Regions from separate parts of the Homo sapiens genome. Here region 2 is linked to region 1. The links come from fine-mapping of genetic effects on gene expression. A gene starts in region 1. The other region holds a variant in brackets. All regions are shown on one strand. Distances are between the middles of the regions. Region 1 holds the start of FBLN2 (fibulin 2). Region 2 overlaps FBLN2 (fibulin 2).

The links. PIP is the estimated chance that this variant, and not a neighbour inherited with it, causes the effect. A credible set is the group of variants that fine-mapping cannot tell apart.
Region 2: its variant is the best candidate, but not a certain one, in a credible set for the expression of FBLN2 in tibial artery (GTEx, PIP 0.89).

Annotation. Positions count from the first base shown.
Region 1 is chr3:13,546,568-13,551,934 of GRCh38, reverse strand. FBLN2 (fibulin 2) reads right to left here and starts at 2,810. Exons shown (of 18, transcript NM_001004019.2): 1 at 2,727-2,810. RefSeq lists enhancers at 232-838, 839-1,447.
Region 2 is chr3:13,605,379-13,610,745 of GRCh38, reverse strand. It overlaps FBLN2 (fibulin 2), which reads right to left. Exons shown (of 18, transcript NM_001004019.2): 3 at 2,573-2,684; 4 at 1,104-1,233. Among named protein-coding and RNA genes, the nearest start is that of SNORA93, 10 kb to the left of the region's middle. The variant T/C (reference allele first, on the strand shown) is at 2,907.

The DNA.
Region 1 (5,367 bases):
AGTTTGAGGCTGCAGTGAGCTGTGATCACACCACTGCACTCCAGCCTGAGAGACAGGACGAGATCCTGTCTTTAAAAAAAAAAAAAAAAAGGAGGGGCCGGGCACGGTGGCTCACACCTGTAATCCCAGCACTTTGGGAGACTGAGGCGGGCGGATCACGAGGTCAAGAGATGGAGGTCAAGTGGCTGTGCAATCTTCACCTTAGGCCCGAATTTGCTGCAGAGAACCCAGTTTCACTTACCATCAGCATGCCCCAAGCATTTACGAAGCACCTATTGCGTGTGAGGTGTGGATGGGCTCAGGGCACTCCCCCCACGGCCAAGGAGACCAAGTCCTCCCACTAGTGGCTCAGTAAGAGGGGCAAAGAGCTTTGCTTTGGAGGGAAAAGATCCTGGGCTGAACCCCAGCTCTCCCCCTTGCCTGCTGGGAGGCCCTTTCTCTACCTCCCCTTCCCCGTCTCTTAAATAGGTGCAAGAGTTCCACCCTGCAGGAGGGATGTCGGGATCTGGGAAGAAAAGTGATGAATAAAGCCTGCCTCGGAGAATGCTCTCTGGCATGAGCTCTTGCTTCACGGGGTCCCCATACCACCGTCCCCCACAGCCTAGCAGGAAGTGTCTGCCACCATCACAAAGATGCCCTGTGGCCCAGGGCCCTGGGCACCACTCATTGCTTCAACGACTAAGGCCTCGAAGGGTAGGAGGCCCGCCCAGGGCTTCCCCAGCCATGCATGGAGGACCAGCCTGGGCCTATGCTTGAGGCGGGCAATGGAGCAAAATCAGCCCAATGCATGCAGCAGTCACAGCCGCACAAAGGCCACGCAGGCCAGGCAGGAGCTGAGAAGGCATGAGAGGGCCAGGTGGGGACGGGGACCAAACAGCGCCCCTGCCCCATCCCCTGGGTTGGGGGTGGGCAGCACCAGCCAGGAGATGCAGATCCTGAACTACCAGACCTTGTGACTTTTCAAGAGAAGACGGAAATCCGGACTTTTACGTGAAAACTGCCAATTTGTAAATGCAGGCAGCTAATTAATTTTTTAAAATAATAATAACATGGTGAGAGCCAAACAAAACATGCAGGGCCAGCCACAGCCGGGGCTGGCAGGTTTGTGCCTCCAGAATAAGATTCTTTGACTTCATCCCCTGCTCACCCCCATCACACAGCTCAGCTGCAGAAGGGGAGGGCGGGAAGTCAAGGGTGCACCCCAGGGGAGTAGCTCCCCCTCCCTCTCTTCCTCCTGCTGGGGAGTCTTCACCCCATTTGGCATATGGGGAAGTTAAGGCCCAGAGCCCCTATCAGCCACAAACACACACCAGCTCCCAATCCATGCCAGGCTGAGGGAACACTTCTCAGCTGCCACCCAATTCATCAGGGCTCCCTCTGGGAGGGCCCGGACCAGCATCTCAGGGGCATCAGGGTAGACACAAGCACCCAAACCATCCTGTTTGACTTCCCTTTTTCTCTTTTTGGCCTGTCAGGGGACGCCTGCTGGCTCAGGCCTGCTTGGGACTGGCCCAAGTGATCACTGCAAAGCTGATATGGGCAACTCCTTGTGGCAGCAAAAAAGGGAGGGAGGGCACCCCTATTTCGGAGACTGGAGCAGGGGAAGGGAGAGAGGATGCACGGAGGTGAGGAGTCAGGCCCAGCCTGAGGCTGAGCCACCCCCATGCTCCCCACAGCCACCCAGGTCCCATGGTAAGCAGCCTCTGTCAGGAGGAACCACCTCCCTCCTCCAAAATCGGCTCCCCACCCCCTAGGACAGGGGAGGACTGCCCATGGAGTGCCAGGGGGGCTGGGACTGTGAAGTCGTGGGGGTCTGTGACTCGTATGTGAGACTCACAGTGTGTGGCACTCCCAGTGTTTGTGATTCCAGGTATTTGAGGAGCACACGCATGTGAGAGACACATGTGTGATACATATGATGGAGATATGCATGTGATAGCTACCCCTGTGTGGCGGACGTGTGTGCGTGTCAGAGGGCAGTAAGGGCACATGTGTTTATCAGAGACACAACTGTCTGCTAGAGGCATGCCTCGGAGGGGTGCCAATGTGCAAGGCATGTGTGTGTGGAGCATTGTGTGCTAAGGGGACGTGAGATGAGTGTGAGAGATTCTGGCCTGGGGGAGCTGGCGGGGTGAGCATGGGGCTGGGAGAGGGAGGATGTGGTGACAGGCAGGGTGGGCGCGCCAATGCAGAGCGTGCAGAAACTTCTGCTTGTGTGAGTGCGTGTGTGGCGGTGAGTGTGACTTGGGGGTGATGGAGGGGGTAGTGTTAGACCAGGGACTCTAGTCTTCTTTCCCCGAGGGGGTTGACCCGGCCCTCTGGACTGGAGGGGCGGCAAGGTCCTGCGGTCGGGGTGGGGGTGGGCAGTGGGACCAGAGGGGATGACTGGTGGGAGCCGGCCCAGGGGGGAGAAGTGAAACCCAGAGCGGAGGAAGCTGCGGACCTGGGGTGGGGGAACCCGCCCGCGGACCCCTGGCCCCCACCCCGCGCCGGCCTCTGTGCCCGCATCTGTACACTGGGTCGCGGCGCTCGCGGGCCGTCCCCGCGCTGGGACCGGGAGAGCGAGACCCGGTCGGACCGGCGGCGCGGGTGGAGGCGCGGGCAGCCCGCGAGGCGCGTCCGAGGGTCCGCCGAGCCGTCGGTGCGTCCGAGCGCCCCCGAGTCCTGAGCTGCGAGGCGCGGACCGACGGGGATGAGTCCGGGCGGGAGGGGCCGCGTGCACTCACCGCGGGGCACTGCGCTCGGCGTCCGTCCGTCCGTCCGCCCGGCCGTCGGCGCGTCGAGAGCCCGGGCGGCCCCTGGCTGTGTGCGCGCGGGGCGGGGCGGAGGCGCGAGAGGCGGGACCAGCCGGCCCCCGGCCCCCTCCCCTGACTCCGCCTCCGCCTCCGGGGCGGGGTCTCGGCCGCCCGCCGGAGAGGGGGCCGGGCCGGCGCCGCTCGCTCAGAGCCCAGACTCGCTGACCCGGCTCCTAGAGGCCGCCCGGCGCGCTCGCTGCGGAGCCCGCACCCTCCCTGCGCCCGGCCTAACCTCTGAGTGCCAGACCTGGCACTGCTGCCCACAGGGCAGGGCCAGGGGTTGGGGTCCGGCCACCTCAGCCAGCCTGAGCCTCAGTGATCACCCCTGGAAGATGGGCCCAGCAGCCTTGGGCACATTGTGAGGGCCTGAGGGGCCCGGCTACAAAACTGCCCAGAGGCCAGGCCCTGCCTCCCACCCGCCTTGCTTCCTACCCTGGGGGCCTGCCTGCAGCCCCACTGCTGCTGCATGTGCCTGGGCAGACGGTACTGAGCCCCCAGCTTTGGAACAGGTTCAGTTTGTCCTTTTCCTCAGCCCAGCTCTGATGCCTGTGACCACTGTGTGACCCCCGGGGTGTCTCTTCCCCCAGCCCACACCGATCCCTTTCTGGGTCTCTTTCGGGGTCTCCATCTCTGATCTAATGTCATCTCTCTGTCTCCCTTGGTTTGTCCCTCTTGGTCTCTGCATCTCCCTCTGACTTTATCTCTTGGTCTCTGTGTCTCTCTGAGTCTCTCCCATCCCTGTCCAGAGACGTATGGCCTGGTGGTCACCACCTCACATCTGAGCAGCAGCCATGGGCCCAAAGTGTGCCTGCCCCCACCCCCAGGGGTCTCCCTGCAGCCCAGGACAGGGGTGAGGCAGCCAAGAGCAAAGGCACAGGGCAGGGCAGCTGCCTGCCCAGGGCCGCACAGCAGAGAGGAGGTGGAGCCAGGAAGGGCCCATTGGCTTAGATGGGGCCACCCACAGAGAAGCCAGGAGCGGATGGAGGGGCCAAAGCCTGAGCTGGCAGCCTGTGCCTGGCCTGCCCCAACTTGTGTCTAACCCCAGGCAGGTGCCTTCCCTCTGGGCCCGTTTCCCCATTGGAGCTCTGTGCTTGCTGTTCCCTCAGGGCCTTTGCCATTGCTGTTCCCTCTGCCTGGGATGCTCTTCCCCAGATCCACCGTGGCTGACTCATCCCTGCATTAAGATGCAGCTGAAATCCCACCACCCCCAGAGAAGCCCTCCCTGAGACCCCAGCAGAGGTAGCAACTACCACTCTCCACCCTGGGACTCGGCCGCACTGTTATTACAGTACTTGTCACTGGCTGATTTCTCTTATTCATTTATAAATGACTATAGGTAGGATCACCTGGTCATTAAGAAAGTCACCACACACCAGCTGTGTGACCTTGGGCAAGTTACTTCACCTCTCTGGGCTTTATTTCCTCAACTGTAAAATGAACATAACGACATCAAAGCCTATCTTATAATGTTATTGGAAAGATCAAATGAACCGAAATGAGCCAAACCGAAAGTACAGATGCTCCTCGATTATAATGGGATCATGTCCCCATAAACCCATCGTAAATCGAAAATATAGTAAGTTGAAAATGCATTTCATCCACCTAACCTACAGAACATCATAGCTCAGCCAAGCCTACCTTAAATGTGCTCAGAACACTTCCATTACTAGCCTACGGGTGGGCAAAATCATCTAATACAAAGCCTATTTTATAATGAAGCATTGAATATCTCATGTAACTCATTGAATACTGCACAGAAAGTGAAAAACAGAATGATTGCCTGGGGATTCCAAGTAGGGTTTCTCCTGGGTGTGTACCACTTTCTCAACATCCTAAATTCAAAAAATCCTAAATCGAACCATCGTAAGTCAGGGATTATCTGTACTTTGGATGGGACTTGACCCAAGGGAGTGCTCAGTAAATATCTGATGAGTAAATGACAGATTGAATCCTTCCTCCTGTGGGGGAAGGAGGGGCAGTGGCCTGGGGTGATAGAGACCCTGGGCAGCTGCTAATGAGGCTCCCTTCCCCAGGCCTGGGAGGAGAGGCACTGAGCCAGATGCAGCTCACTCTGCAGCCCAGGGAGCCCAAGGCCTGGCCCGCCTTCCACAAGATAAAGTGGAGACACTTCTCCCGTCCTGTTATCTGAGCCGGAGATGCGGCCAAAGCGGCTGTCCCTTCAGAGCCCTTCCAAGACTGTTATCGCAGACAGAGCACGCATCACCCACCAGGAATTTGGGGCCCAGGGCCTGGCTGAGAAATGGTTGGAGGAAGTCAGGCTGATAAGGCCTAGACAGAATGATCACAGTGGGCAGCGAAGTTATTTACATCAGTGACAATCTCACCAGCTCCCTGGGCACTGAGGCGCCAGGGCCAGCAGGCATGAGGCTCACTTGTCCCACCTGTGCAGCCTGGATTGGGAAGAGAAGCCTTGCTGAGCTTCCTGGGTCTGCATCCTCACTGGGTAGCCTTGGGGAGGCTGCCTACGTTGGAGCATGGGTTCTGGGACCCAATGGCTTTGATTTAAATCCACATCCTCCCTGTATGACCTTCAGCAGGTGGCTTCAACCCT
Region 2 (5,367 bases), 59 kb before region 1:
CAGCCTGCAGCATATGAGAGAAAAACCAGTGTTCCAGGAAGTTTTCCATTACTTGTAGCCAAACTGACACCCTGTCCGCCAGTGGCCACCATGAGCTCTAGTAGACAAACTGATCTCCTGCTGCAAATCCCTCCCACGGCTTTACAGACACTGCTTGAAGCCGAAAGCTCTCAGCATTTACTGTCCTTTATGGTCCAGCCTGAGGACTCCCGGTGGCCTGTCTCTACTGCTGCCAGACCACTGGACCACACACCCCATTTCCCAACGTCCTCGCCTGTGTGTTAGTTCACACTGTTCTCTGCACCACTGTTGCCTGGTGGGGTTTTACCCCATCCCAATCCCACCTCCCATGTGAGAGAAACACCCTCAATAACCGGTCCCCACAACTGCCAGAAGAGACCCTCAAACTCCCCATGGGGTCCACCTCACCCACAGTCAAACCACAGTCCTTCCGATGATGGCCAGGAGCCCTGACATCTCTCTGGGCTCAGCTCCACCTGCCCCCTGTCACTCGATGCACTCCAGCCACACAGCCTAGACATGCCAAGCAGGCTCTGACCCCAGGGCCTTTGCATGTGCTGCACTCTGCCTGAAAGCATTTCACAGACATCCCCCACCCCGGGCATTGCACAAATGTCCCCTCCTCAGTGAGGCTGTCCCTGGCCACTGTCAGCTGATACTGCAGTCCCTCCCCAGCCCTGACACTACTTATCCCACCTCTCCTTAAGTTTTTCTCCTTAGCACAATCGCCTGCAACCACGCCAGGTGCTAAAATATTCATCGTGATCTTCCTCTGTCTTCCTGGCCAGAAAGAAATCCCTGGGAGGGCGGGAATTGCCATCTGTGTTACTCACTGCTACATCCCTGATGCCCAGGGCACACAGTGGTGCTCTACAAATATTCTGTGAATTAATTGGTCAGTATAATAACTGATGATGTTTTCTGCGCAGATTAAGAGTCCTTCCACCCCAGGCGTGAGGGTCACTCCCAGGAGGAGCCCCAAGGACAGCCTAACTTCTTGGGCCACGAGGACCTTCAGGCCCAGGCCAGCCTCCCGCCCCGCCCCACCCCACCCTGCCTTGAAGGCCACAGGTCAGGCTTGCCTTGTACAGGGAGATGCCGCAGCTGTCGTTGTCCTCAGCCCCACAGGTCTCACCCTCCTTGGCTCCCAGGACGCCGGCCATGCAGCTCTTCTCCTGCAAGTAGGAGACACAGCAGTGCCTCTGGGCTGTCCTGAAACAGAGGGGGTAACTTAGCCCCCAGTCGCCCACCTCATCCTCCCAGAGTGGAAAGTGAGTGAGGCTCAGAGGAGGGAAGCTCTGCCCAAGGTCCACAGCAAGGGAGCCGGTGCAGGTGGCAGAGCCGGCACAACCTCCACTGGGTTGCATGGGTTTCATTTCTTGGCTTAACCATGCAGATGCAGGCCTGGGTCCCACTAGACTCGGAGATGTGTGTTCATGACCTCTGAGAGAGAGGGGTTGGCATCAGAGTCCCCACCCCCACAACGGTCGGGGAGGACAGAGAGACCTAATCCCAGAAAAGGCTGGCAGGTCAGCCTGGAGGAGCACAGCCTCCGGGTCCCTGGTCACTGCCTGCCAGTCACTGTTGGGCTGCCTGGGGCAGAGGTGGCTGACAAATCAGCTGCAGAGACCAGAGCCAGGACAGGGCGGCGGGGATTACGGGGGACAGGGCTCAGCACCCCCTGAAGTGGGACACGTCCACAAGACGGATGCAAGCATGCACTAGGACCGCTTAGCCCCAAACTCCAGGGGTCCCAGTGCTGCATGCTCTAACTCCTAAGTTGCCCCATATTGGTAGAATGGCTGAAGGGAAAGACAAGGTTAGAACATAAATTTTTTTTATAGGAAGCAGAGTGGTCTGGACATTGGGAAACATGGGGTCTAATCCCAGCCATGCTGCCAGTGAGCTGTGTAGTTTTGAGTGAATCACACTGCCTCTCTGAACTTAATCTTTCTTATTTGGAAAAATGAGTAGGTTAGACGGGGTCCCTGGAAAAAAACAAAGCATGAGCAGCTGACCAAGAGCTCTCCTGGGCCTGGAAAAGGGAAGGCATGGGGATAAAGGATTGCTTTGCTGTGGTATCAGAGTCAGAAGAAACAACCAGCACAGCAGCAAGGGAGCACAGTGAGAGGCCAGCCTCCTGAAGACCCAAGGGTAGCAAAGCAGAGAAAGGAAGAGGGCAGAGGAGAGAAAGCCTGAGTGGCATGAGTGCGGCAGCAACTGCAGAATGTGGTGAGGGGAGCACCCGACTATTCCTAGGGGACAGCACTCCTTTAAAACTTGTTTCAAATTGTACATTCCTCGGATCTTGCTCACTAGGCCAGCTACCAATTTATGTGGCTGGTTTGTTCCTAGGACCAGTCTTGGACTTTCCACCCCTGGAGAAAGCCTGGCCAGATGGCGCACGGCAGCCACACCCAATCACCCTCATGCCCCAGAGGCATGTGAAGGTGCACTCTCTCCGGGCTGCCTGGAGCCTGGGGTCCTAGGCAAGCAGGGTTCTGGAGAAGGCAAATGGGCAGCTCCGCCTGCTCCAGGGAGCCCACCCTACCTGCAGACGTTGTCCTCAGTGCCACTCTCAGGGATCTCCAGGCACTCGTCATTGTCAATGGCCCACTGCTGTCCGGCTGCGCAGCAAGTCTCGATCAGGTCCTTGGTGGAGCCTGTGGATAGCAACATGAGGCAGAGTCACCATTCATAAGTCACCAAGTCCAGCAGATATGCAGGGGCCTGTCCAGGTCTCCTTTACTGGGCAGGCAAACTCATCCACCCCTGCTGCTGTGCATGCTGGTCGCTAACAGCTCACAACACAACTGTCTTTGGTGAACTGTCTGCGAGGTGGAGTCCTCCCTATGGGGGCTGGGAGGAGCCCAGCCCATAACAGG[T/C]TAACATGGGGCCAGAGCTCAGCCCCCACTCTCAAAGCAGCCAGTTCTATGGGGGCCACTCACACTCTAGAGCTCCCACAGGGTCAGACCTCACGTGGGCCACAGCTTTGTCCACCTCTCATCCCTCACTCCTCAGAGTTTCTCCTGAGAGGTCTCCCCAAATGAACCAACACATGCACAAGACCCCCCAACTCAGGCTCTGCTTCTAAGGAACCCAACCTAAGATGCTAAGACAGGGCAAGAGATACGAAAACAGCAGCAGTGGCAGCAAGGGAAGTTTAAGCTCATCCAGGAAATTCACGGAAGTTTTATGTTGAATACACACTTGACCCCTGGAACAACACAGCAGTTTCTTCCACCTCTGCAACCCCTAAGACAGCAAGACCAGCCCCTCCTCCTCCTCCCCCTCCTAAGCCTACTCAGCCTGAAGACAGTGAGGATGAAGACCTTTATGATGGTCCACTTCCACTGCATGAATAGTAAACATATTTTCTCTTACGATTTTCTTAATAACATTTTTTTTTCTCAAGCTTACTTTAAGAATACAGAATATAGGCTGGGTGCGGTGGCTCATGCCTGTTATCCCAGCACTTTGAGAGGCTGAGGCGGGCAGATCACGAGGTCAGGAGTTCAAGACCAGCCTGGCCAACAGGGTGAAACCCTGTCTCTACTAAAAATACAAAAATTAGCCAGGCACGGTGGCAGGCACCTGTAATCCCAGCTACTCAGGAGGCTGAGGCAGGAGAATTGCTCGAACCTGGGAGGCAGAGGTTGTAGTGAGCCGAGATTGTGCCACTGCACTCCAGCCTGGGTGACAGAGCAAGACTCCGTCCCGGGGAAAAAACAAACAAACAAACAACAACAAGAAAAGAATACAGAATATAGTCAGCCGGGCACGGTGGCTCATGCCTGTAATCCCAGCACTTTGGGAGGCCTAGGCAGGAGGATCACCTGAGTTCAGGAGTTTGAGACCAGCCTGACCAACATGGAGAAACTCCGTCTCTACTAAAAATACAAAAAATCAGCCAGGCATGGTGGCGCATGCCTGTAAACCCAGCTACTCGGGAGGCTGAGGCAGGAGAATCACTGGAACCTGGGAGGCGGAGGTTGTGGTGAGCTGAGATCATTCCACTGCTCTTCAGCCTGGGCAATAAGAGTGAAACTCCATCTCAAAAAAAAAATACAGTATATAATATATATAACATATAAAATATGTGTTAATTGACTATTTGTGCTATCAGTAAGGCTTCCTGTCAACAGTCAGCTATTAGTTAAGTTTTTGAGGAGTCAAAAGTTACATGTGGATTCTTGACTGTTAGTCGGGTCAGCACCCCTCACTCCTGAGTTGTTCAAGGTTCAACTGTATTTGTGACTGGGGAGGCTGGAAGGAGTCAAAGGTAGGGGAGAATGTCTTAAAACTCAAAGGCACAGGCTATAGGTTACAAAAATTAATGAATTTGATTACCTCAAAATTCCAATATGTATAACAAAGAACTCCATGTACACATATAATAGACTGCTGACATATTAAGAAATGTTTCTGGAATGTCCAAAACTGACAAGGAATTGCCATCTACAAAACATAATAAACTCCTGAAAATTAACAAGAGAAAAAAGAACTCCAAAGTAAAATACTCCTTAGGCCAGATGTGGTGGTTCACGCCTGTATCCCAGCATTTTGGGAGGCTAAGGTGGGTTCATCACTTGAGCTCAGGAGTTCGAGACCAGCCTGGACAACATGGCGAATCTCCAACTCCACAAAAAGTTAGCCTAGCTACTCGGGAAGCTGGGGTGGGAGGATGGCTTGAGCCCAGGGATGGGGAGGGGGGTTGGAGGTTGCAGTGAGCTGAGATGGAGCCACTGCACTCCAGCCTGGGTGACAGAATGAGACTCTGTCTCAAAAAATAATAATAAAATATCCATTAAACTAGAAATATGAGTAAGAGTGAGAAATGCCACACAGAGGTGGGGACCCCCTTTTCTCCCTTAGTGCTGTATTCCTCTACACTGCTGCATGTCCATGTGTCTAGGGTGGGAGAGGAGACTGCGGCCAGCTGGAGAGATGTGGCACCACTTATACAGTTAAGCACACGCAACATCAAGGACCCAGACGCTCTGCTCCTGGTGTCTGTGCCAGGGAAGTCCTCACGACAGCCCGTAACACAACCAGTACAAGGATGCCCATGTCAAGTGTTATTTGTGGAAAGGGGTTGCGGACAGCCTGGGTGTCCATCACTGGGGGGGAGGATGAGGAAAATCTGGGGCCATGCTACATGCAGGAGCTGTCAGAAACAATAGACTGGATACACACACAGCAGCATGAGCTGGACACACCAACACACAGAAGTGTGGAGGAACACAGCACTAAGGGAGAAAAGGAAGAAGCCAAATCAGTTCTACTATACAAATTTAAACTATCACACATAAAATAACAATGCATACTTTGCAAGAACACATGACA